2 linked regions of the Homo sapiens genome follow. The protein of the gene in region 2 interacts with the protein of the main gene of each other region in a pairwise test. Each region holds a gene or a part of one and is shown on either strand. Other genes may lie near its edges.

Evidence for each region.
Region 1: the proteins of PBRM1 (region 2) and CHD7 interact in binary tests that used the Homo sapiens proteins (3 or more experiments, as listed by UniProt).

What each region holds. Positions count from the first base shown.
Region 1 is NC_000008.11:60,849,346-60,856,739, reverse strand, and holds part of CHD7 (chromodomain-helicase-DNA-binding protein 7), read right to left. Parts: intron 6,248-7,394; coding exon 6,118-6,247; intron 5,709-6,117; coding exon 5,636-5,708; intron 5,479-5,635; coding exon 5,421-5,478; intron 4,722-5,420; coding exon 4,493-4,721; intron 4,243-4,492; coding exon 4,034-4,242; intron 3,912-4,033; coding exon 3,240-3,911; intron 2,378-3,239; coding exon 2,217-2,377; intron 766-2,216; coding exon 538-765; intron 296-537; coding exon 1-295. UniProt on the Homo sapiens protein: ATP-dependent chromatin-remodeling factor, slides nucleosomes along DNA; nucleosome sliding requires ATP. Probable transcription regulator. May be involved in the in 45S precursor rRNA production.
Region 2 is NC_000003.12:52,670,340-52,686,098, forward strand, and holds the start of PBRM1 (protein polybromo-1), read right to left. Parts: upstream 15,575-15,759; 5' UTR 15,410-15,574; intron 15,261-15,409; exon of another isoform or gene 15,097-15,260; intron 14,576-15,096; exon of another isoform or gene 11,753-14,575; intron 11,482-11,752; exon of another isoform or gene 11,404-11,481; coding exon of another isoform or gene 11,356-11,403; intron 10,588-11,355; exon of another isoform or gene 10,524-10,587; coding exon of another isoform or gene 10,521-10,523; intron 9,388-10,520; coding exon of another isoform or gene 9,373-9,387; coding exon 9,235-9,372; intron 8,259-9,234; coding exon 8,161-8,258; intron 1-8,160. Other genes in the region: GNL3 (guanine nucleotide-binding protein-like 3), read left to right, coding at 15,754-15,759. UniProt on the Homo sapiens protein: Involved in transcriptional activation and repression of select genes by chromatin remodeling (alteration of DNA-nucleosome topology). Required for the stability of the SWI/SNF chromatin remodeling complex SWI/SNF-B (PBAF).

The sequences.
Region 1 (7,394 bases), on a different chromosome or scaffold from region 2:
CTTGGAGCAGTTCCATTTGAGTCTTAAAGGCATCAGACACTGGTGTTGAGACATTAGGCAAGATAAACTTTGAAGAAAGAGATGAAAAATTTGAGGTAGAGCTTGTTGCCTCTCTTGAGGCCTTTGATAAATCTACAACTTTTTCTTGTCCATTTTCTGAGACCACCTGAGACTCTCGAAGCTGGGCAACCATCTCCATGAGATTTCGCCTCTTGGCAGCTCTTTCGGCCTCAATTTCGATTTTTCTCCTCCTCCTCCTCCGCTGGCGAGGGACAGAGAGGTTGAGGGCATCTTCCTATTGAAAAATTCCAACAGAACAGAGTTGCAGTGAGCCAAAACAGTACTGCTATATGGGCTGGCTTTTAGAAATAAGGAACAAGAAGCTTAAGGAATTAAGCATTCATGACTGGTGCACAGAGCTGAGGAAACAGCAGCTATCTTATTTCTAAGCAAGGCCAGTGAAATATAAGCTCGCAAACTCAGTTAAGGCTTAGAGAGCTCCCTTTTAAGCTGCAGAAACAAGCCATTCTAATTCACCTTTGACAACTGAGGAGACGTAGTGATGTCCTCACTCCCACTAATGCTGGCTTGGCCGACCATGGAGAGCTCAGCAAAGCTCCTCTTCTGCAAGGGGCTGTCCACTGTGGTGGGTGTGTAACCTGGGATGAGGCCTTGGAAATCAAACATCTGGCGCCTATTTACTGGCCATTTGCCTTTCAACACTGCTTCACAGATGTTGTCTAAGCGGTTTATCATTACTCTATCCTGGAGGGAGAAGAAAAGTCACAAGAAATTTTAACAAAGCCCTGGTTAAAATTACTAGATAAATACATCCATCAAGATGCAAAAGAGCATAAAATGTTTAAAAGTCAACTGGAGGACAAAAAGTAAAAGAAAACAAGGCAAGAAATCAAACAAGAAAGTAAATAAACAAAATCTCCTATAATGGCATTGCTCTGGCAGAAGGTCCTAGGTGGCTTCAACACAGAAAACATGCTATTTTTAATTACGAACACTGAACTACATAAAACAGAAAAATGTACTACATAATCACCACCTTCAAAATATCTTCATATTTAAAAAGTAACTCTTGTACAAGCTCCATAGAGCTCTGCTGGTGGATGTCAGTAGATGACAATGGAAACCCTGCATTAGCTTCTTGCCGCCCTGGCCCTTCAGATCTACAGGCTGGATTGCAGTCCCAGGAAGTAGGACATCATTAGCGTCACTATTAATAAAGTTCAGCATTATGAAGTGGGCACCAACCTAGGAACACCTAATGAATGTCAATTTGCATTCCCTACCTATTATCACTTCAAATTTCATTGAAGCGTGTACATTAAAAATTTCTAATTACAGCTTTAGACTGAGTTTCCATAGATTAAAAGTGCCTGCTACTATAACCTTTGACTGATCTGGGAAACTCCCTCCTACACTCAATAAAGGAGGTTAGCATAACAGGGGAACTAAAGGGATAGAGAGAGGAAACAAAATGTCTTTGACAGTACATTCTTTGGTCAAAATTTTCACCTTGTTTCTTACACAATAATACTGGGAAAGACGAGCCTGGGGGGTAGGCTGACTGAAGCTCATTTTTTGTGTTGTTTTAAACCAGACAGCCCTGTTATGGTGATTAGGATGATTATTTCCTCACCCTGAAAAACAGACCTAAATTACACAGGGAATTATTATAAAATTATACTATTTAGCCAAAAAAGTAATTTCCATTTTGCTTTTGGTTACAGATAACTACATTTGGAATTATCTCATAATGCGTCAAAAGCAAATGGGTCAACAGTACACCCTCTTCCAAGTCAAGAAGCTGGTAGGTTTCCAAAACTATAAAGTTGTCTTAAATCTGAAGGCTTTATTTCACAAAAAAATTTTAAAACACAGTGATAATCCATACATTATGCTAGACAACGGGGGTAAGTAACCTAAAAGCCACATGGAGCCAAAGATCAATCCATATACACACTTCTATTTCTTATTATCTTTCTTTCACATCACATTTCCCATCCTATTAGAAAAGTGTTCTACAATTTTTTTCTTTGGGCTTTTTCAGATCATTCTTTAAAAGTATAAGAAAAATCTATAGTCTTCATATACTGTGTCAAAAGTTTACCTTAAAATTACTTGAAAAATCAAGCTAGAAAGATTTCCTCTACCCTAATCCTTTTTGGTCAGCAAAACAACAGCAACAAAAACCTGCCAACCTTAGGCCAAAACGAGAAGGCAAATGTTCTTTCATGAAGGAGCTGAGCTACTGAAGGATCTCCGTCCTCCATGTAGAATCCATCTCGGGTTTCATCTCTAGCAGTGCTCATGGAAGCATTGCTTTCTTCATCAAAATTCTTCCCTCTAGAGACAGCTCCTGCTGAGAAATGAGTTAATGTGCATTACTCACAACCACAGTATCAGGGAAACTGAAGTTTAGAAAGGACATGATTAAAAATGTGAATACTAATCAGCTCCATTTTATTGAGTACCTACTACATGGCTAGAATGGTATTGGGCACTGTTGTCTAAAGCTTACAACAGCCCTTTAACATAGATGGTGTTATTTCCATCTTGCAGATGATGACACAGAGGCTTAGAGAGGTTAGTCACTAGCCACCTAGCACCGTGCAAGTAAACCTTACAAGAGGCTGATAGCCAACCAAGTCATTGACTCAAGAGTCTATGTTCTTCCACACAGAAAAAAGGGCTGACCTTCTGTCAAAAGTTGAAGGTTCCAGCTACAGCACAGTACGTGCTCTATTTTTATTCTGGGCCAGTTTCAGCAACCGTACTGTGACTTAAAAAATTGGTTATTTTTAGATTCTATTCCCACTCTTTACTTCTGAATCAAAACATAACAAGCACCAGTTGTTTCAAAATGATTAACAATATTTACTCAGTGAATGACCACCTTCCCTCACATTTGTCAAAATTAAAATCACATAGAATTCTTAATACACTGTCACTCACTACAAGTTAACTTCCATCCTTAAACCAGAAATTGCTAATGTGTCCATGCAACCCTTCTTAGAGTTTATGTTCTTCAAAATACCATGGTTAGGTGCTATAAGGTGCGAGAGCAAAACACAGATATAAGCATAACTTGAAATTATCCCTTCACAGAAGAAAATGTACACTAAGTACTCGTGAAAAAGAGCAGGTGCCGTGCTGCCAGAAAGCAACGCATCTCACAACCAGCTGCTGCAGGGTCAGGAGAGGGGCCAGTGGTAAGGCCTTACCTTCGGGCTGGGAAGACTCTTCCGACTTATCGTCATCCTCCAGCTTTTCCTCTTCATCCTCTTCGGAACCTTTCTCTGAAATAGATTTGGACCCAGTGTCTGCGCCGACCTCAACACCTTTCAGTTCATTTTTCACAGAGCTGGCCTCTGCCTCACATTCCTGCTTGCTCTCCTTCCCGCTGCCATCGGTTTCTTCTTCCTCTTCTTTGCCCTCACATTTCTCCTTGGCAGCTGGGTTTTCAGGCTCCTCCACTTTGCCTTCGGCTTGTTCCAGTACCCTCTCATCTTGAATATGAGCAGATGAGATGACTGGAGGAGTCTGGACAAATCCAACTGCCAGTGGGTTCAAGGAAGATGTATTACCTGCCCCTCTGTTTTGAGCAAAGTTTTTATGTGCATCCAAGAAGGATAACTCAGGGTCATTGAGGATGTGATAATCCGTCCGACTGACCCCGTGTTTAGCAGCACCAACCAGCAAGTCTCGGTCATGCCGTCCACACTCCCACCACTCTGGCAGATCCAAGCTTGGCTGGCAGAGCTTAAGCCTCTCTCCCAGCTGGGGGTGATGGAGAACCTGCTCGCGGATCTTCCGTAGCAGCTCAATGCGGTACAGAGTTCGAGAGGCTCGCTCCTCTGTGATCGGCTCAATTATGGAGGAGAGGTCGGGCGGTTCTGTAACACAGAAGGGCTCATATTTACTTGGGGAGAATTCAAGGGCATTCTACATTGTACACTTTCTTATTTTTCACTTTACTCGTCTTTTTGTATAGAACTTTGTTGCTAAATGTACCTACCATCATCTGGCTTGACGGGCATTCGACATACTCGCCTACACATGGCCACAAAACAACTGAAGTATTTCTCCAAACTCTCATCAGATTTTTTGTCAAGCCTGGCAAAGGCTCTAAATTGGTTCCAGTCAAATTGCTGTTTCACAGGGTCAAAAATAACCCCAAAGGTGGATACCACACGGTAAAAATCAGCCTCTTCTCTTCTTGTCCACCTGTTAGAAAGATTATATTAGCTTGCATCATACTTCAGGAAAAGACTTAATATTTACTGTTTCTTTTCTTCTTCCCCCCAGACTTTATACATGGTAGTTATTTGGGGGTGGGGAAACAGACTGCTTTGTTGGAGCGAGCCTTTCTTTGGTGGTCACTACCTTTGATATGAGTCCTGTCTCTTGTGGGTCTACAGGAGCAGGGCAGAGGGGCATGTACCGGGAGCTGAGTGGAAACCTTGAAGAAACTCACTTTTGCCGCTTCTCAGATATAATAGCTTCCCTTTCCGCTTCCAGAGCTCTCACTTCCTCTCGAGGCCGCCGTCTGCGCCGGTCAGTCTTCATTAGGGCCTCTTGCCTCATCTGTTGCCTTTTATAGCTGCGCTGATAGGCAGTAATGAGCCGGCGCAGACGTGTAGTCAGGGTTGAAGTGTTAGGCCAGTAAAGTTGGCCTAACTCAGCATTACTCTCACTGTGCTTGCCTGGGGAAGTGGAAAAACATTTTTGAAATGTGTAGCTGCAATCTTGCAATACAGAGTATTCCAACAAAACAGGATGACTCATTAAGATTCAAATGACAGTGTGGGAAAGGGCATCTCAGTGCCCTCATTTTTAAAATATAAATAAGTAATAACATTCACTTGGAATATATACACTTATTTCTTTTTTACCTCCTTAGAGGGGATGAAAACATTATTTATTAGTCCTACATAAAGAAACACACTTTACAGCATAAACTTCTTATAAGGTACTCTCCTCTAATGTATGTGCAATAATCATCTTGAGTATAAAAAATAACTGCATAATTGTTGTGTAATGATTTTATATTCGGTAAAAGGTCAATATTCTAAATAAACTGAAAATATTTTAGGTGAATACTTAGCAAATGCTCTATGCTCTATTCCCAAGAGCTATAGTTTAGATGCTTAAAATTTTTCACTAATTAGTGTAAAATATAAATCAGCTAATTATCATCAAAGAAATAGTTATCCTATCTAAGAAATTCAATGTCATGAAAACACAGCCATTAACAAGAATTAAAATGATTCACAAAACAGGTCAGTGTAGAAGAAATAAGGTGTTAAGACACTGCTGTCATGAAGCAGGACAGTCCCTACCACGTGAACAATGACTGCTCAGTGCACGTCTGCTCGGCTACACAAGCTTTTCTGGGACCTTACCTGTGGCATGTATTTCCATGGATTCTTCCTTATCCTCTGAAGGAGAATTTGCAAATTCCTTGAAAGCAAAGCAAGAAACAGAATTACTTTAATTTGGGGTCTCATTTTTCTTTGTCTTTTAAAGAAAAGGTCATTATCTATAAAGTTTAACAAGTCTTATGTGGGCATATAATATTTTAATGGAGCTATAAAAGCCAATATACTCAAGTTCATACATCTATTTCATCTTTGAACGGTGTTCTGGTTGGTTTATATTCTGGGTCTTCATCTTCTCTATCAAATTCTCCCCTATGTAAAACAAACACAAAAATTATTTGAATCATACTGATAAGCAAAAGAAGGAAGGGGGGTGGGTAGGAAAGAGTAATAATCTGCCCAGTGCTACTTTTAATTATGGGTTTGACATCAAAAGCAACTCTATCAGTATTTAAAACATGCAGCCATGGCAGTGTGGTGGAGGGGGTCTGGGGAGATTGCGGGAAATGACATTTGGAAAAGAAAAACAAGTTTCAGATTATCAAGATAATGTATATTGTTTAAACAGTCATTACGACATACAAATAGAGTAGACTGGTAAACATCTCCTGAACTTCAAATCAGACACAATACAGTGTGTACTGCAGGGTAAGAACTGAACCCTGCCAATAGATGTGAAACTGACATAAAGTTTATTCAAATTTTAAAATGTCCTTCTTACCCGTCACCACCATCTGCTAGCATGTCTGTTCCTCTTTGCTCGGCAGCTATGGCCTTGGCATCAGGCATACCGACTCGTTCCAGAAAGCACAGCGCGGGGTCAGCTCGCATGGAGTTGTACTTCTCATAGCCTGTGCCGTGCCCATCCGTGCACAGAAAACACACAGAAACAAAGAAAGGCCCCATCACTGGCAAAATCACAGCACTGCCACAACACAAGTTTGTTTTTCAGTCAAGGTTAGCATCTCTGTTGAATCCAAGTGGACCTTGTTTTAGTAGATCATTCTATGGAACGCTCCTTCTAGGGAAGCTACTGGGAGCCAAGTTACACTTCAGGGATATTATCAGAATTACCACAAACACTAATAGAAAAACAGGTTCAGAATAACTGCAAGATGCCTGGGAGGATTTCTGACCCTATTTTTCCCCAGATCTAATTTTGCTTGACATTTAGAAGGATTCGCAATGTTCCTTTATGACCTCTGCAGGGGTGCACTGAGTCCACCCCCATCCACTCTGTGAATAGCATCAGTCCTGCAGGAACTCGCATGGCTGGCTGAAAAATCCCCATATACATAAGGCCAGCGAACCTGTCTTATTAGGTTTAGGATGATGCATGTCAGTAAGATGACACGGTTCCCTCTATGGTTTTCAAACTGCAATTTGCTTTTTGACTGCCCAAGTTGACTAGATGGAAAATGGCAGATCCCAACAGTGCACTGCGGGAAAATGATTTTGAGGCTGAGCTCACAAAATGTGGCTGCAGTACATAGGCAGAACAGCACAATTCAATTAGGATGTGTACTACAACACACCGCTCCTAACTGCTGTAGAGCCGCAAGCCAAACTGTAATCATGAAAGGTTTTATAAGCCATCATTCTCCCCTTTAGTCAGGCTGGGCTGCTGAGAATACCTCCGCGACCTCCAGAGAATTGGGATTATAATCAGGAATCGCTCACTGTATATATCATGCCAGTTCTGCATCCCCAGCCTTTCAAAGTTAACAAGGCTGCATCCCACTCAGGGGAGCCGCGAGTTCTCAGCACTGACATTTGTGAAATATTGCTTGGAACAAAGCCCAGGAGGCACTTGTACAGATTAATAGCAGAGGTTAAGCCCACCGTCCACTTTGACACTGGTTGGCAGAGTTAGCAAGGGAAGCCGCGCTGGAAGCAAAGTTTAGGGAGAGCTATAGTACAACTTGGCTATTATTAAAACAAATATGGTTTGGGTTTTATTTACAGCCAAGAAAGAAATGTTTTCTTCTCAAATGCTCA
Region 2 (15,759 bases):
TTTCTGAAATCAAACATACAGAAAACCATCAAAAGTAAGAATCATCCTTATAATCCAGAATAAATAGCACCATTTGCATTTTTATAGACATTCTTCCAGACTTCTCTATAGGCACATGTACACACAAACCAAATTTAACATAAACAGGATTATATTGTATGTTCTTTCAAAACAACTTTTCTCTTTCAACAATAGATGAGGGCAGTCTGGCATATGGCTGCAAAATAACCAAAATGCAAAGTTTTAATCAGAATAATGAGAAACACTAGCCCTGGTGTGCAGACAGCCTGCCGGCTACTCCCTACCCCATTTTCCCTTCTTCCCAGGATGACAGCATTCTAAGCTGCTGCATGGCTACTAAAGACTATATTCTCAGCCAGCATGGTGTTGCATGCCTGTAGTCCCAGCTACTTGGGAGGCTGAGGGAGGACTGCTTGAGCCCAGGAGGTCAAGGCTGTAGTGTGCAAAGATGGTGCTGGTGAGTAGCCTGCATTCCAGCCTATGTGACATGGTAAAACCTCGTCTCTAAGGAAAACAAAGCAAAACAAAACCTTAAAGACCATATTTATTCTCCAGCCTCACTGCAGCTAGATTCTAGCCAATACGAGAGCTGAAGTGTGTCATATCCAAGTCATGTCCTTAACATTCATTCTTTTTCCATACTGGCTGGAAGGCAGTTGTGGTAGTGAGTCATCTCAGACCATGCAGGCAAGGGTGATACCACAAAGACCGCAGAATAGAGTTGGCTAATACTTGTACCTTGACAACTTCACAGAACAGGACTTTTACACAAGAGAAATAAATTTCTCTTTTGTTTCAGCCATTGTTGATTTGCATGTCCTAGCACAAAGCAGACTAATACAGTAACTGAAACAAAGTATCAAAAAGATATTCACAAATTGTGTAGCTCTGAGCAATACTAATTCTCATAAATACTTGAGAAAAAAACATACATTCCACAGAGGAGCGTCAGAAAAAAGGCACCATTATCTTCGAGGTTGTAACATGACAGTGGTCCAGCACCCAAGGTGTGTATCCTCTGCCCCTCAGCACTCGCCTGCCAGCAAAAAGGAGGCAGCAGAGGGACGGTATCTTCTATAAAAGTTGTTTTGTATACTTCAGTGTGATGCTGCTACTCTATACCACATAATGGTTAAGAGCACAGGCTTTGGAGTCAGAACGACTTTAGTCTGAACACCAGTTATCTTTTAGTAGTTACAAGAACTTGTGCAAGTTCTCACCTATAAACTGTGATAACTCAGAATTTTAAATAAGATATGATTGGGAAAATGCTTGGTATTGTGTCTAGAATGTGGCAAACAATAAATACATGCTTTTACTACTTTATGCTAATTAAATGACAACTTTCAGAAGACTATTATTGATAAACCAACTCAAATATGGAGACAGTTACCTCATTTTAAAAACAATGCTTCCTTTTTGGCCATGGCTAATTTGCTAATTTACAGGGCTCTCCTAATTCAGGATGATGACACTGCATTCTCAGTGGCTTGCTCGTTGAGGTGAGAAATTTGCCTCCAGTTCAACTTAGAGCTTGGTAACTACCCACTGTAGCATCAACAATCATGAATGAATCTAAATCTTTAGTTAACTCACAGCTTTCTACAGCTGCTGTAACAAATTACCACAAACTTCAGGGCTTAAAACAAAACCCATTTATTATATTAGTTCTAGAGGTCAGAAGTCCAAAATGGGTCTCACTGGTCTAAAATCAAGGTATTAGCAGGGCTGCATGCCGTCTGGATGTTCTAGTACGGAGCATCTAGCGAAAAAGGTTTCCTTGCCTTTTTCAGCTTCTAGAGCTCACCTGCATCCCTTGGCTTGTAGTCTCCTTCCTCCATCTTCAAAGCCAGCACTACAGCATCTTCAAATCTCTGACTGAACTTGTCTCCCTCTTCCCCATTTAAGGACCCTTGTGATTACACTGGACCCACATGGATAATCCAGGATAACCGCTCCAATTCAAGATCAGCTGATTAGCAAACTTAATTCCCCTCTGCCATGTAACACAATATATTCACAGGTTTCAGGGATTAGAATGTGGAAATATTTGGGCACCAGTTTTCTGACTAACACACTCATATACGTTTTCAGAACAAATAACTTCAATTTCCAGAGGTTTTTTTTTGGCTTTTTTTTTTTTTTTTTTTTGAGTCAGAGTTTCACTCTTGTTGCCCAGGCTGGAGTGCAACAGCGTTATCTCCGCACACTGCAACCTCTGCCTCCTGGGTTCAAGTGATTCTCCTGCCTCAGCCTCCCGAGTAGCTGAGATTATAGGTGCACACCACCACGCCCGGCTAATTTTGTATTTTTAGTAGAGATGGGCTTTCTCCATGTTGGTCAGGCTGGTCTCGAACTCCTGCACTCAGGTGATCCACCTGTCTCGGCCTCCCAAAGTGTTGGGATTACAGGCATGAGCCACCACGCCTGGCCAATTGCCAGAGTTTTGAAGAGAATAGTGATTATATTTTGACAGCAAGAGAGGAAAGATGTTCTAGTTAGGGGAACATACCTTCCATAGGAAGTTGTGTGCAAGATGCCTCTCTGTGTAATTTAAAAAACTGATCCCTTTTAACTATCACTGTGACAACTTCAATACAGTCTTAAGAGCTATTAATTTTTTTTATTAATTTTTAATTTTTTTGAGACGGAGTTTTGCTCTTATTGTCCAGGCTGGAGTGCAATGGTGCAATCTCAGCTCACTGCAACCTCCGCCTCCCGGGTTCAAGCAATTCTCCCACCTCAGCCTCCCAAGTGGCTGGGATTACAGGCACCCACCACCACGCCCGGCTAATTTTTGCATTTTTAGTAGAGACAGGGTTTCACTATGTTGGCCAGGCTGGTCTCGAACTCCTGACCTCAAGTGATCCACCCGCCTCAGCCTCCCAAAGTGATGGGATTACAGGCATGAGCCACCGCGCCCAGCCATAAGAACTATTAATTTTTATACTGCCTATGTGAACCAGGTGTTAAAAAACAAAATGAAACAAAAAAATTAAATAATTTAAAAAACATGCTTCACTCTCGGCCAGGTGCAGTGGCTCATGCCTGTAATCCCAGCACTTTGGGAGGCTGAGGCGGGTGGATCACCTGAGGTCAGGAGTTCGAGACCTGCCTGGCCAATATGGCAAAACTCCGTCTCTACTAAAAGTACAAAAAAAATTAGCCAGGCATAGTGGTGTATGCCTGTAATCCCAGCTACTCGGGAGGCTGAGGCAGGACAATTGCTTGAACCCAGGAGGTGGAAGTTGCAGTGAGCCAAGACTGTGCCACTGCACTCCAGCCTGGGCAACAGAGTGGGACTCCATCTCAAAAAAAAAAAAAAAAAAAAAGCTTCTTTCTCAAGGAATTAGAGAAAAGAAGAGCAAACTAAACCCAAAGCTAGCAGTAGATAATAAATAGAAAGGAGGGCCAGTGCAGTAGTTCATGCCTATAATCCCAGCACTTTGGGAGGATGAGGTGGACAGATCACTTGAGGTCAAGAGTTTAAGACCAGCCTGGGCAACAAAGTGAAACCCTATCTCTACTAAAAATACAAAAATTAGCCAGGCATGGTGGCACACGCCTGTAATCCCAGCTACTTGGGAGGCTGAAGCATAAGAATCACTTGAACCTGGAAGGCAGAGGCTGCAATAAGCCATGATCACGCCACTGCACTCCAGCCTGGGCAACAGAGCAAGACACTGTCTCAAAAAAAAAATATATATATAGATATATATATAGAATGCAGATAAACGAAATTAGAGAATAGAAAAACAATTTTAAAAATTAAACAGTTGGTTTTTTTAAAAGATCAACAAAATTGGTAAACACTTAGCTAGATTAACTAAGAAAGAAAGAGCTGAGCACGGTGGCTCACGCCTGTAATGCCAGCACTTTGGAAGGCCAAGGTAGGCGGATCACCTAAGGTCGGGAGTTTGAGACCAGCCTGACCAACATAGAGAAACCCTGTCTCTACTAAAAATACAAAATTAGCTGGGCGTGGTGGCCCATGCCTGTAATCCCAGCTACTCGGGAAGCTGGGGCAGGAGAATCGCTTGAACCTGGGAAACGGAGGTTGTGGTGAGCCACAATCGAGATCGCACCACTGCACTCCAGCCTGGTGCGAAACTCCATCTCAAAAAAAAAAAAAAAAAAGAGAGAGAGAGGCTGGGTGTGGTGGCTCACACTTGTGATCCTAGCACTTCGGGAGGCCAAGGTAGGAGGATCACTTGAGCCCAGGAGTTTGAGACCAGCCTGGGCAACACAGGGAAACCCTGTCTCTACCAAAAAAAAAAAAAAAAATATATATATATATATATATATACACACACACACACACATATATCTCCTTACCTAACATTACATACGTTATTTTTTAATATGTATGTAGCGTTAGGTAAGAATCCAGCATATTTTTACATATATAAATAAAAAATACGTTATATATACAATATATATATTTTATGTGTTTACTATATACATACACACGTATATATAACATATATATTAGCCAGGTATGGTAGCATCAGGTGAGAGGACTGCTTGAGTCCGGGAGGTTGAGTCTGCACTGAACTGTGATTGCCACTGCACTCCAGCCTGGGTGCCAAAGCAAGATCCTGTCTCAAAAAAAGACAGAAAGGAGGAGGGAGGGAGGGAAGAAGTAAGGGAGAAAAGAGATGCAAATAACTAAAATCATAAAGAGGAGACATTACAACCAATGCCACAAAAATAAAAAGGATTATGAGAGTTCTAGGAAAACATGTATGCCAACAAATTAGATAAACTAGAAGAAATGGATAATTTCCTAGAAACACACAACCTACTAAAGACATACAAAGCCTGAGTAAACCTATAACTAGTAAGGAGACTGAATCAGTAATAAAAAATCTCCCACAAAGAAAATCCCTAGACTGATAGCTTCACTGATGAATTCTAACCAGACATTTCAAGAACTAACACACCAAGCCTTATGAAACTTTTCCAAAAAATTGAAGAGGCGAGGTCACGTCCTAACTTATTCTATGAAGCTAGCATTACTCTGATACCAAAGCCAGACAAAGATACTACAAGAAAACTACTGATCAATATCCCTTATGAATACTGATGCAAAATTTCTCAATAAAATATTAGCAAACTGAATTCAGCAGGATATTAAAAGGATTATATACCATAACCAGGTGGGATTTATTCCACAGTGAACAAGGTGTTGAAGTGGTGAAAGTGGGCATCTCTGTCTTGTTCGTGATCTTAGAGGAAAAGCTTTAAGTATTTTGCCACTGAATATGTTGTTCACAGTAATCAAAATGTGTGCTACTGGTATAAAAACAGACACAGGGACCAATGGAATAGAATGGAGCCTAGAAACGACCCTCACATACACGGTCAAGCAAATTTTGACAAAGGCGCCAAAACCATTCAATGAGAAAAGCACAGTCTTTTCAACAAACGATACCGGGAAAACTGGATACACACATATAAAGAATGAAGCGGGGGCCGGGCGCGGTGGCTCACGCCTGTAATCCCAGCACTTTGGGAGGCCGAGGCGGGCGGATCACGAGGTCAGGAGATCGAGACCATCCCGGCTAAAATGGTGAAACCCCGTCTCTACTAAAAATACAAAAAATTAGCCGGGCGTAGTGGCGGGCGCCTGTAGTCCCAGCTACTTGGGAGGCTGAGGCGGGAGAATGGCGTGAACCCGGGAGGCGGAGCTTGCAGTGAGCCGAGATCCCGCCACTGCACTCCAGCCTGGGCGACAGAGCGAGACTCCGTCTCAAAAAAAAAAAAAAAAAAAAAAAAAAAAAAAAAAAAAATAATGAATGAAGCGGGATCCTTACCTAAACACTACTTATAAAAATTCAAAATGGATCAAAGGCCTAAATGTAAGAGCTAAAACTATAAAACTCTTAGAGGAAAACCAATACAGTTTGGCTGTATCCCCATTCAAATCTCAGCTTGAATTGTTATCTCCTAGAATTCCCACATGTTGTGGGAGGGACCCAGAGGGAGGTAACTGAATCATGGAGGCCAGTCTTTCCCGTGCTATTCTCGTGATAGTGATTAAGTTGCATGAGATCTGATGGGTTTATTAGGGGTTCCCACTTTTGCTTCTTGCTTATTTTTCTCTTGCCACTGATGTAAGAAGTGCCTTTCACCTCCCACCATGATTCTGAGGCCTCCCCAGCCATATGGAACTGTAAGTTCAGTTAAACCTCTTTTTCTTCCCAGTCTCGGGTATGTCTTTATCAGCAGTGTGAAAACCAACTGATACAGTAAATTGATACCAGTAGAGTTGGGCGCTGCTGAAAAGATACCCGAAAATGTGGAAGCGACTTTGGAACTGGATAACAGGCAGAGGATGCAACAGTTTGGAGGGCTCAGAAGAAGACAGGAAAATGTGGGAGTTTGGAACTTCCTAGAGACTTGAATGGCTTTGACCAAAAGCCTGATAACAATACGGACAATAAGGTCCAGGCTGAGGTGGTCTCAGATGGAGATGAGGAACTTGCTGGGAATTGGAGTAAAGGTGACTTTTGTTATGTTTTAGCAAAGAGACTGGGGCATTTCGCCCCTGCTCTAGAGATCTGTGGAAGTTTGAACTTGAGAAAGATGATTTAGGGTATCTGGCAGAAGAAACTTCTAAGCAGCAAAGCATTCAAGAGGTGAGTTGGGTACTGTTTAAGGCATTCAGTTTTATAAGGGAAGCAGAGCATAAAAGTTTGGAAAATTTGCAGCCTAGTCCTGTCCAAGAGAACCCTGATTAATACAAAAACATAGGGGAAAAGCTTCATGATATTGGATTTGGCATTAATTTCATGGATATGACACCAAAGGCACAGGCAACAAGAGAAAAAGACAACATAAACTTCATGAAAATTAAAACCTTTTGTACATCTAAGGACACCGTACAAAATGAAAAGGCAACCTACAGAATGGCTCTATCACCCAGGCTGGAATACAGTGGCGGGATCTCAGCTCACTGCAACCTCTGCCTCCCAGGTTCAAGCAATTCTCCTGCCTCAGCCTCCCAAGTAGCTGGGATTACAGGCGCCCCACCACCATGCTCGGCTTTTTTTTTTTTTTTTTTTTTGAGATGGAGTTTCACTCTTGTCACCAAGGCTGGAGTGCAACGGTACGATCTCGGCTCACTGCAACCTCCACCTCCCGGGTTCAAGTGATTCTCCTGCCTCAGTCTCCCAAGTAGCTGGGATTACAGGCGCCCACCACCAAGCCTGGCTAATTTTTGTATTTTTAGTAGAGACGGGGTTTCACCACGTTGGCCAGGCTGGTCTCAAACTGCTGACCTCAGCTGATCCACCCGCCTTCGCCTCCCAAAGTGCTAGGATTACAGGAATGAGCCATTGCGCCCAGCCTTGCACCTGGCTAATTTTTGTATTTTTTAGTAGAGACAGGGTTTTGCCATGTTGGCCAGGCTGGTCTCGAACTCCTGGCCTCAGGTGATTTGCCCACCTATAGACCTCCCAAAGTGGTGGGATTACAGGCGTGAGCCACTGTGCCTGGTCAGTACTCTTTTTTAAATATTTATTTTTAGGCAAGCTCTTGCTCCATCACCCAGGTTGGAGTGCAGTGACACTCATGGCTTACTGCAGCCTCAAATTCCCAGGCTCAAACAATCCTACCACCCCAGCCTCCCTAGTAGCTGGGTCTATAGGTGAGCACCACCACACCTGGCTAATTTTTCAAAAAATTTTTTGTAGAGATGGGTCTCACTATGTTGCCCAGGCTGGTCTCAAATTCTTGGCCTCAAGAGATCTTTCCGCATAGGTCATTTTTTTTGTTTTTGTTTTTAAGAGACGGGGTCTCATTATGTTGCCCAGGCTGGTGTCATACTCCTTGGATCAAGCAATTCTCTTGCCTTAGTCTCCCATGTAGCTGGGATTACAAGTGCATGCTCCTGTGCCTGGCTCAAAAAATCAAGTAGCTGGGATTATAGGTGCATGTTACTGTGCCTGGCTCAACAGATTTTTAATTTAAAAAAAGCTTCACTACAGCTTGATTACTAAAGACTAAAGACTAAAATTGGACCCCAGTATCATTTAAGCCATTCCTGCCAACAAAAAGCTCAATTTCCAAACACTTTAATACACATGGACTCTGGACCAAATCCCCCGCAACTGTACTGATGTGCTTCGAACTCACCTTCGCTTTGGTGCCCTAATGAAGAGCTCACAGAGAAGTCTGCCCTGTTCATCCTTATAGTCTCGGATGGTATTATAGAGTTCATGGCACACGGCAATCTACACATTAGCAAAGGAGAAAAAAATCACTAAAAAAGTGAACAGAAAGCCAGTGTAGACATAAGAATTATTTTCTACTCTTCAATAAAAGGCAAGTAGAGAAGAAAAATGATGACTCTCAATATTACCAAACATGCTAAAGTCTGAAATATGCTGACAATATGTCTCCTTTCAAACAACTGAGTTGACTAACTTTTTGGTATCTTTCATCAGATTTATGCTCCTGGTGATTTTGTCTTCTAAACTATATCAGTTCATCACTTTCTTGCTTAAAGTCATCCAATTGAAGGGTTTTCTTCTTTGAAACTAAATCAGTTTATCACTCTCTTGCTTAAAGCCATCTGACAGAAGGGTTTATCACTTCACAGAGAATAAAATCTAAACTCCAAACATTGCTTGTGTGGGCCCTACATACTCTGAATGGGTGGAGCTTGCCAGTTTCCTTCTCCTTCCTGACCATCCCCTGCTCTGTAACCAAGACACACAAAACTCATCCCTGACCCAACCCCTCTGCACTGGTTCTGTCTGGAACTCTCTTCCAGCGAATTCAGGCCAAAACAGCCCAAATCACCCAAAATTTTCTTCTTAGCACTTATTACTAGCTAAGGATACATTATTCTTTATTCGTTTACTTGTTTACATTCTACTTCCCCCGCCTGGAATCTAAGTTCCATGTGAAAAATGGGCTTGTTTCCACATGGCTATATCCCAACCATGAGAACAGTGCTTGTCACATGATAGTCACACAGTTATTTGCTGAATTAATATATGATGTAACATACTGAAATTATTCATAAGATCACACTATTACTCTAAGACTTAGCTGAATACATAATGTTCATAAAAGAAAAGACTATTAATCAAGAGAATCTTAAAAAAGTGGAGATGCCTTGCATCGTAACAATTTTACCATTAAAGGGAAGATAGGGGAATTGTGGGAAGAGCAGGCAGAAACCATGTAATCCAAGTTACTCACAGGATCTACAGTTGGAAGATTGGAAAGTCTCCTCCTTTTCCTGCTTGGGCCTGGTGTTGACACAGAATGGTGCCCATCATCAAAGTCCCCGCTGACACTGCTGGAAGGGGAGGTAGCTCTTCTTCTCTTGGAACCCATGGAATCCAACTTCTTCTATAAGAAATAATCAGCCATGTTCTTACATTTAAATAGACTCTGTCACCAAGTCTTCAGCTGGACACCTGCTACCAAACTCCTGGCTCACTTAGGAGGATATTTTAACGTGTTGTAGTTTAACTAGCTATAAGTTTTTTTTTTTTTTTAAGCCCTGGACTTCCTTGTTTTAGTCTTTCACTTACCAGAATGCTATACTTCCAATTTTGATGGGACAAATTCAACAAAAGCATATTCATTTGTATATCAGCAATCTTGAATGACTCAACTTCTGGCTCCAAATTTGGCCTAGAGTTTCCCAACCTATATGTAGCAGTACATTAGTGTGCTGAAGGTATTAAGCCTTCAGCCCATGAGGCAGTCAGGCAGGCCTGGGGTACAGAGGCCCCAAGGTATCCACCTCTGGAGTCAGCACCTCATCTGCTTCTCTATGTGCCTTACAATTATGATCATTTGCTAGGTGGGCCATCATGTGGAAAAGAGCAAGAAGCAGAGCCCAGGACAAATGAGTAGTGCAAAAAGGTAAGGGGACAGAGGACAATTAACCTTCTAGCACTTTAGATGTACTCTAAAATTAAAACCCTGAAAATGAATGTTCTCCATTCATTAAAACAGGATCCACAAGACATATCCCTGGAAAACACTTAATGAGACTTGCTATACCTAGACAGAGGTACAAACTATCCTTTGAAACTCTTCTGTTAATTCAAACTAATCACCTTTTAGTGATATGACATACTCTAACTATAACACGTACTCTATTTAACTATAACAATTTTAACTATAACTCTATTTACAACACAAGAAATGCAACCACTGAATGATCTGCTACAGATAGTATATACCCAAGAAAGTCCTGCAATGCTTATATTGCAATACAATCTAACAATACTATCAAATAGTATATTGTGATTTGAAAGGCCTTTTTCTTTCTTTCTTTCTTTCTTTTTTAGGTGGAGTCTCGCTCTGTCACCAGGCTGGAGTACAGTGGCACGATCTCTGCTCACTGCAACCTCCCTCCACCTCCCAGTTTCAAGCGATTCTCCTGCCTCAGCCTCCAGAGTATCTGGGACTAAGGCGTGTGCCATCACACCCAGCTAATTTTTGTATTTTTAGTAGAGACGGGGTTTCACCATGTTGGCTAGGATGGTCCCAATCTCTTGACCTCGTGATCCGCCCGTCAAAGGCCTTTTTCTAAAGCTAAAAGAAAAAAAAAGATCCCAGTTTCACTCATCAACACTGAAGGTATTGATCCTTCAGCCCCTGAGGTAGTCAGGCAGGCCTGGGGTTCAGAGGCCCCAAGGTATTCACTTCTTGAGTCAGCACCTCATCTGCTTTTCCATGTGCCTTACAATTATGAGGAACCTCATAGAACTAGAGTACCTCATAATTGTAAGGCACATGGAAACACTGAATTTCAGGACACTACGACACCAGCAGCTGAATGATTAGAACAGGAGAACACTGGTTGCCAGCAGTATGGAAAGAAAGGTTGGGGATCTCCAGGAAACAGAAAGAAGGAGCAAAAGAATCACATTTGAAAATCCTGGTGAGCAATTAAGGAAAAAGAGAAGTCTCAGATCTCTTTTTCCAAACTAAAGTCCACATGGTGTTTAAAACAAAATCTACCACGATGATGTTCCTTACTCTAGGCTTCGGTTTGTTATACAGTATTATTAGTTTGAAGTTGGCTAAAAGTAGTTAAAATCGTCAAAAGGCTTAGCCAAAACTTAGCCAAGTTTTGCTGATTTTTGTTCATTTTATAAAAAGCTGATCAACAGGACTCAATTCATTAAGATAAATTAAGGACCAATCCCTTTTAAACAATCTATGACAAAGACACAAGTGAATTTGATGAACATAAGGAGGGAATCTTTGTGGAAAGGATAACAAAAATTTAAGAAAGGTGGAAGGAAAAAGTCAAGGAAGGACAGAAAAGGGAAAGGGTGTAGATAATCAGTAATTTACCAGCTTTACCAGAGCACAACCAGCGCCTCGAAAAGCCAGTCTCCTCATTATGTCTGAAAGCCAAGTGAAGCCAGTGGGAGAAGGAAGGGCTTTAGAAGTGCTGATTCAGTGTTAGTATATTCAAAACTGAAAAAGAAGAACAAGGCAGAGAAGGGGGAAATAGAAAAGAAGGGTCAGAAGGAGTAAAAATGAGTACGAATAGATAGAAAACATTCAAATAGAACTGCTAAAGAAAGATAAAGAGAACTGGAGAAAACAGGCATATCAGTTCTCTTGTACCTATCAAACAAACTGCTGCAAAGGCTCAGGCACTAACAGTACCTGACAGTTCTTCCATTTTAAAACCAAATGCTTTCATATGTTTAAAGATGTCTCATTGAGGTTCCCCTTTACTCACATTAGGAATGACTGTCAATTCCAGGAATGAGGCATGCCTGCCCAACTGCCCCCTAGTCAATAAGAGCAGAGTTCAATCACAGAGCTGGAATGGAGAGTGAATACATGTGGGAGGCTCACATGTGACACCAAGTGTTGGCAAGCTGGAACAAACCAAGAATGGCTCATGTGAGCAAAAGGTCTGGAAAACACCCTCCCCCACAAAAAAAAAATTCAGAGAAAGAACATTTATTTCCAAAAGTCCTATCTGCATTGGAGACACCATATAAAAATTTGACAAGGTTAAAAAAAAAAAAAAAAGGGCCAACCATTTTGGCAGGAGTTCAAAATTACTTTTATAAATAATCCACTGAAAATCAAATGACAAAAAAATACATTATCAGCATGTGTATGTCGTTCGGATGACACAATATCCCAATATCCTTGAATCATTAATTTACTTTGGTAAGATAAGAAAAAGTTTCAACTTAAGGATAATTTTCAAGTATTTTCTTATCCATGGGACACATTTTAAAATGTATTTTGAAAGTCTGACAAGAAGGGCAATGTTATAAGGTGGGAGAAACAACAGGACCTTTGCTCCTAAGACCAGAATAGGAGTCCTAAGTCTTCCACCTCTGATTATCAGCTTGATGTTGTCTGATTAGTTGATGTAACCTCTCAGATCTGTTTCATCTCTAAAATAAGAACGTAATGCCGGGAGTGGTGGGTCATGCCTGTAATCCCAGCACTTTGGAAGGCCGAGGCCAGTGCATCACTTGGAGTTCGAGACCAGACTGGCCAACGTGGTGAAACCCTGTCTCTACTAAAGAAAAATACAAAAATTTAGCTGGGTGCGGTGGCTCATGTCTGTAATCCCAGCGCTTTGGGAGGCTAAGGCGGATGGATCACCTGAGGTCAGGAGATCAAGACCATCCTGGCTAACACGGTGAAACCCCGTCTCCACTAAAAATACAAAAAAAATTGGCTGGGCTTGGTGGCACGCACCTGTAATCCCAGCTACTTGGGAGACTGAGGCAGGAGAATCGCTTGAACCCGGGAGGCGGAGGTTGCAGTGAGCCGAGATGGCACCACTGCACTCCACCCTGGACGTCAGAGCAAGACTCTGTCTCAAAAAAATAATAAAAAAAAAAATTAGCTGGCTGAGGCAGTGCATGCCTGTAAACCCAGTTACTTGGGAGGCTGAAGCATGAGAATTGCTTGAACCCAGGAGGCAGAGGTTGCAGCAAGCCGAGATCATACCACTGCACTCCAGTCTGGGTGACAGAGCGAGACCGTCTCAAGAAAAAAAAAAAAACAACATAAAGTGAAATCACTTCTGCATGTTCCCCAGGCACAGGAACAGCATATTCATTTTTGTAGACCTGTCTTACAGGATAGTATTTGGTATAGGTTATGTGCTCAGTTTATCTTTTAATAAATGTATTAAAAGTGCACTTAGGGCCAGGCACAGTGGCTCATGCCTGTAATCCCAGCAATTTAGGAGGCTGAGGTGGGCAGATCACCTGAGGTCAGGAGTTCAAGACCAGCCTGGCCAACACGGTGAAACCCCGTCTCTATCAAAAATACAAAAAATTATCTAGGCAAGGTGGTGGCATGCACCTGTAATCCCAGGCACTCGAGAGGGTGAGGCACGAGAATTGCTTGAACCAGAGAGGCAGAGATTGCAGTGAGCTGGGATTGCGCCACTGCACTCCAGGCTGGGGGACAGAGTAAGACTGTCTCCAAAAAAAACAAAAAAAAAGTGCACTTGAGACCTTCAAAAAAAAAAGTTTATTTGTATAGTTTAAAAGTCCTCAGCCAGGCACAGGGGCTCATATCTGTAGTCCCAGCACTTGGAGAGGCTGAGGCAGGATGACCGCTTGAGGCAGAGAGTTCAAGACCAGACTGGATAACATAGATTGATCTTTTCTCTACAAAAATTAAAATTAGCTGGGTGTGGTGCTGCACATCAGTAATCCCAGCTACTTGGGATGCTGAGGTGAGAGGACTGCTTGAGCCTAGGAGCACAAGGCTTCAGTGAGCCATGATCACTTTACTGAACTCCAGCCTGGGCAACAAAGTCAGACCTTGTCTCAAAAAAAAAAAAAAAAAAAAAAAAAAAATGCCTGTAAGCATCCCTTCAGCAATTTTGTCTTTCCATGAAGAGGAAAGACAGATTCCAGAGTTCAATGCCAAGTTTTAAAATGGCCTTGATTACAGTTACAAGTTCAAAAGTCTAACAATCAATAATTTATAGTGGACAGTTAAGAATACTTAATAATGTGCAACTGGGAGAATATCGACTTACTATAGACAAACAGTGTATTTCGACCGTTTATGAACTTTAGCCCTCTCCTATATTTCTAGTAATATTTAGCAATACAATACATGTTTAAAACAAAATCTTGGAAAACAGGACTCAAAGGAAAAAAAACACCTATAAACCTACTTCCAAGAAAAAAACCACTCTTAACGTTGTCATTCGGTTTTTGGTATTTATGCCTTAGTTACCTATTATTTTTTACCAAAATGTTAACAAACCACATATATTATTCTACAGCCTGTGTTTTAGTGAAGGTTCTTCCAAGTCAACATTCTTCCTCATGATGTTTGATGACTTGATAGTAATCTATCATATAGATACACCACAATTTACTTATCTTGGGAATTTTGGTAGGATATTAACATTTGAGGTATTTTGTACATTCCCAAAGCCAAAGAAAGCGGTCAAGGCCCTTCCATTCATCCACACATAAACTCTTTATTGTTTTAATTTGAAACACCTCTTCAAAACATATTTTCCAATCTTCCATTTTGGAGCTCAAAATCAAATATGGGCGACCTGTAAGTAATAAAGCAAAAATTATGCTACTCTTTTATGTGCATGAGTCCAATTTGCACTTTTTGGGGAAAAGCACATAGCCAAATGGAGAAAAAAATAATACCTAAAATTATTTGTCAAGAATCCTGTGTTGGAAAGTAAGTTAATTAAAACAATTCACCCCAACATACGCTTCTATAATTATTGTAAGAATTTCTATATCCACTATACCGTGTACTTATTTTTCAGGGCTTTTTCTATATTTTTGCAACTCTTTCTTCCCCTTTAAATTAAAACTTATTATAATAACAAAACTGTGCTTCCCCAAACCAAGAAATATACACAGTTCCCAAAATCCCGGATTCTTTGTGGTGTTGAGAAGCTGAAATATCTGGCCTCTACTATAAATACAAGTCCCATTGATTAAAATACCCGGAAAAAATACGGAAAGAAAATCACTAAGAGTTTGTGTCGAACCGTCAAGAAACCACAACAAAAAAAAGAGGCCCTGAGCAACGGAGGAAATGAAGGACTTTCCCGACCTGTCACTGGTATTGGGGACTGAGGGAAACGTTGACAGCTTTGAAGCTGCCCCGCGACGAGCGGGAAAGAGGAGCGCGGGGAGTTTCCGACCCGTAGTGCGCCTTTGTCCCTGCCGGCAGGTGCGACAAGGCTACTGGGCCCATCCGGAGGCCAGCCGCCGCGCCCCGCCCAACCCCGCGCGCCCGGCCCGACCCGCGCGTCCCCACGGCCGGGGCGGGGCTTCCGCCGCGGCTCCCGCCCGCCCGGGCCCACACAAAGGCCCGGCAGCTGACCAAGGGGGAGCGGCCCCACCCGCCCTGGGCCCGGCCTTACCCAGCCGCTCCGCCGCCTGCAGCCCCGGCCGCGGTCACCGACCGCCGCGCCCCGCCCCGTGGCCGCCACGGCTGCTGCTATTGCTCCTCCGGCCGCGGCCGCTGCCGTCGCTTCGGCACCCGCCGCCCTCACCTCCCTTACCCCTCCCGGTGCCGCCGCAAAACCAGTCCCGCGGCCGCCAAGCGATCCCTGCTCCGCGCGACACTGCGTGCCCGCGCACGCAGAGAGGCGGTGACGCACTTTACGGCGGCAGCGTAAGTGCGTGACGCTCGTCAGTGGCTTCAGTTCACACGTGGCGCCAGCGGAGGCAGGTTGATGTGTTTGTGCTTCCTTCTACAGCCAATATGAAA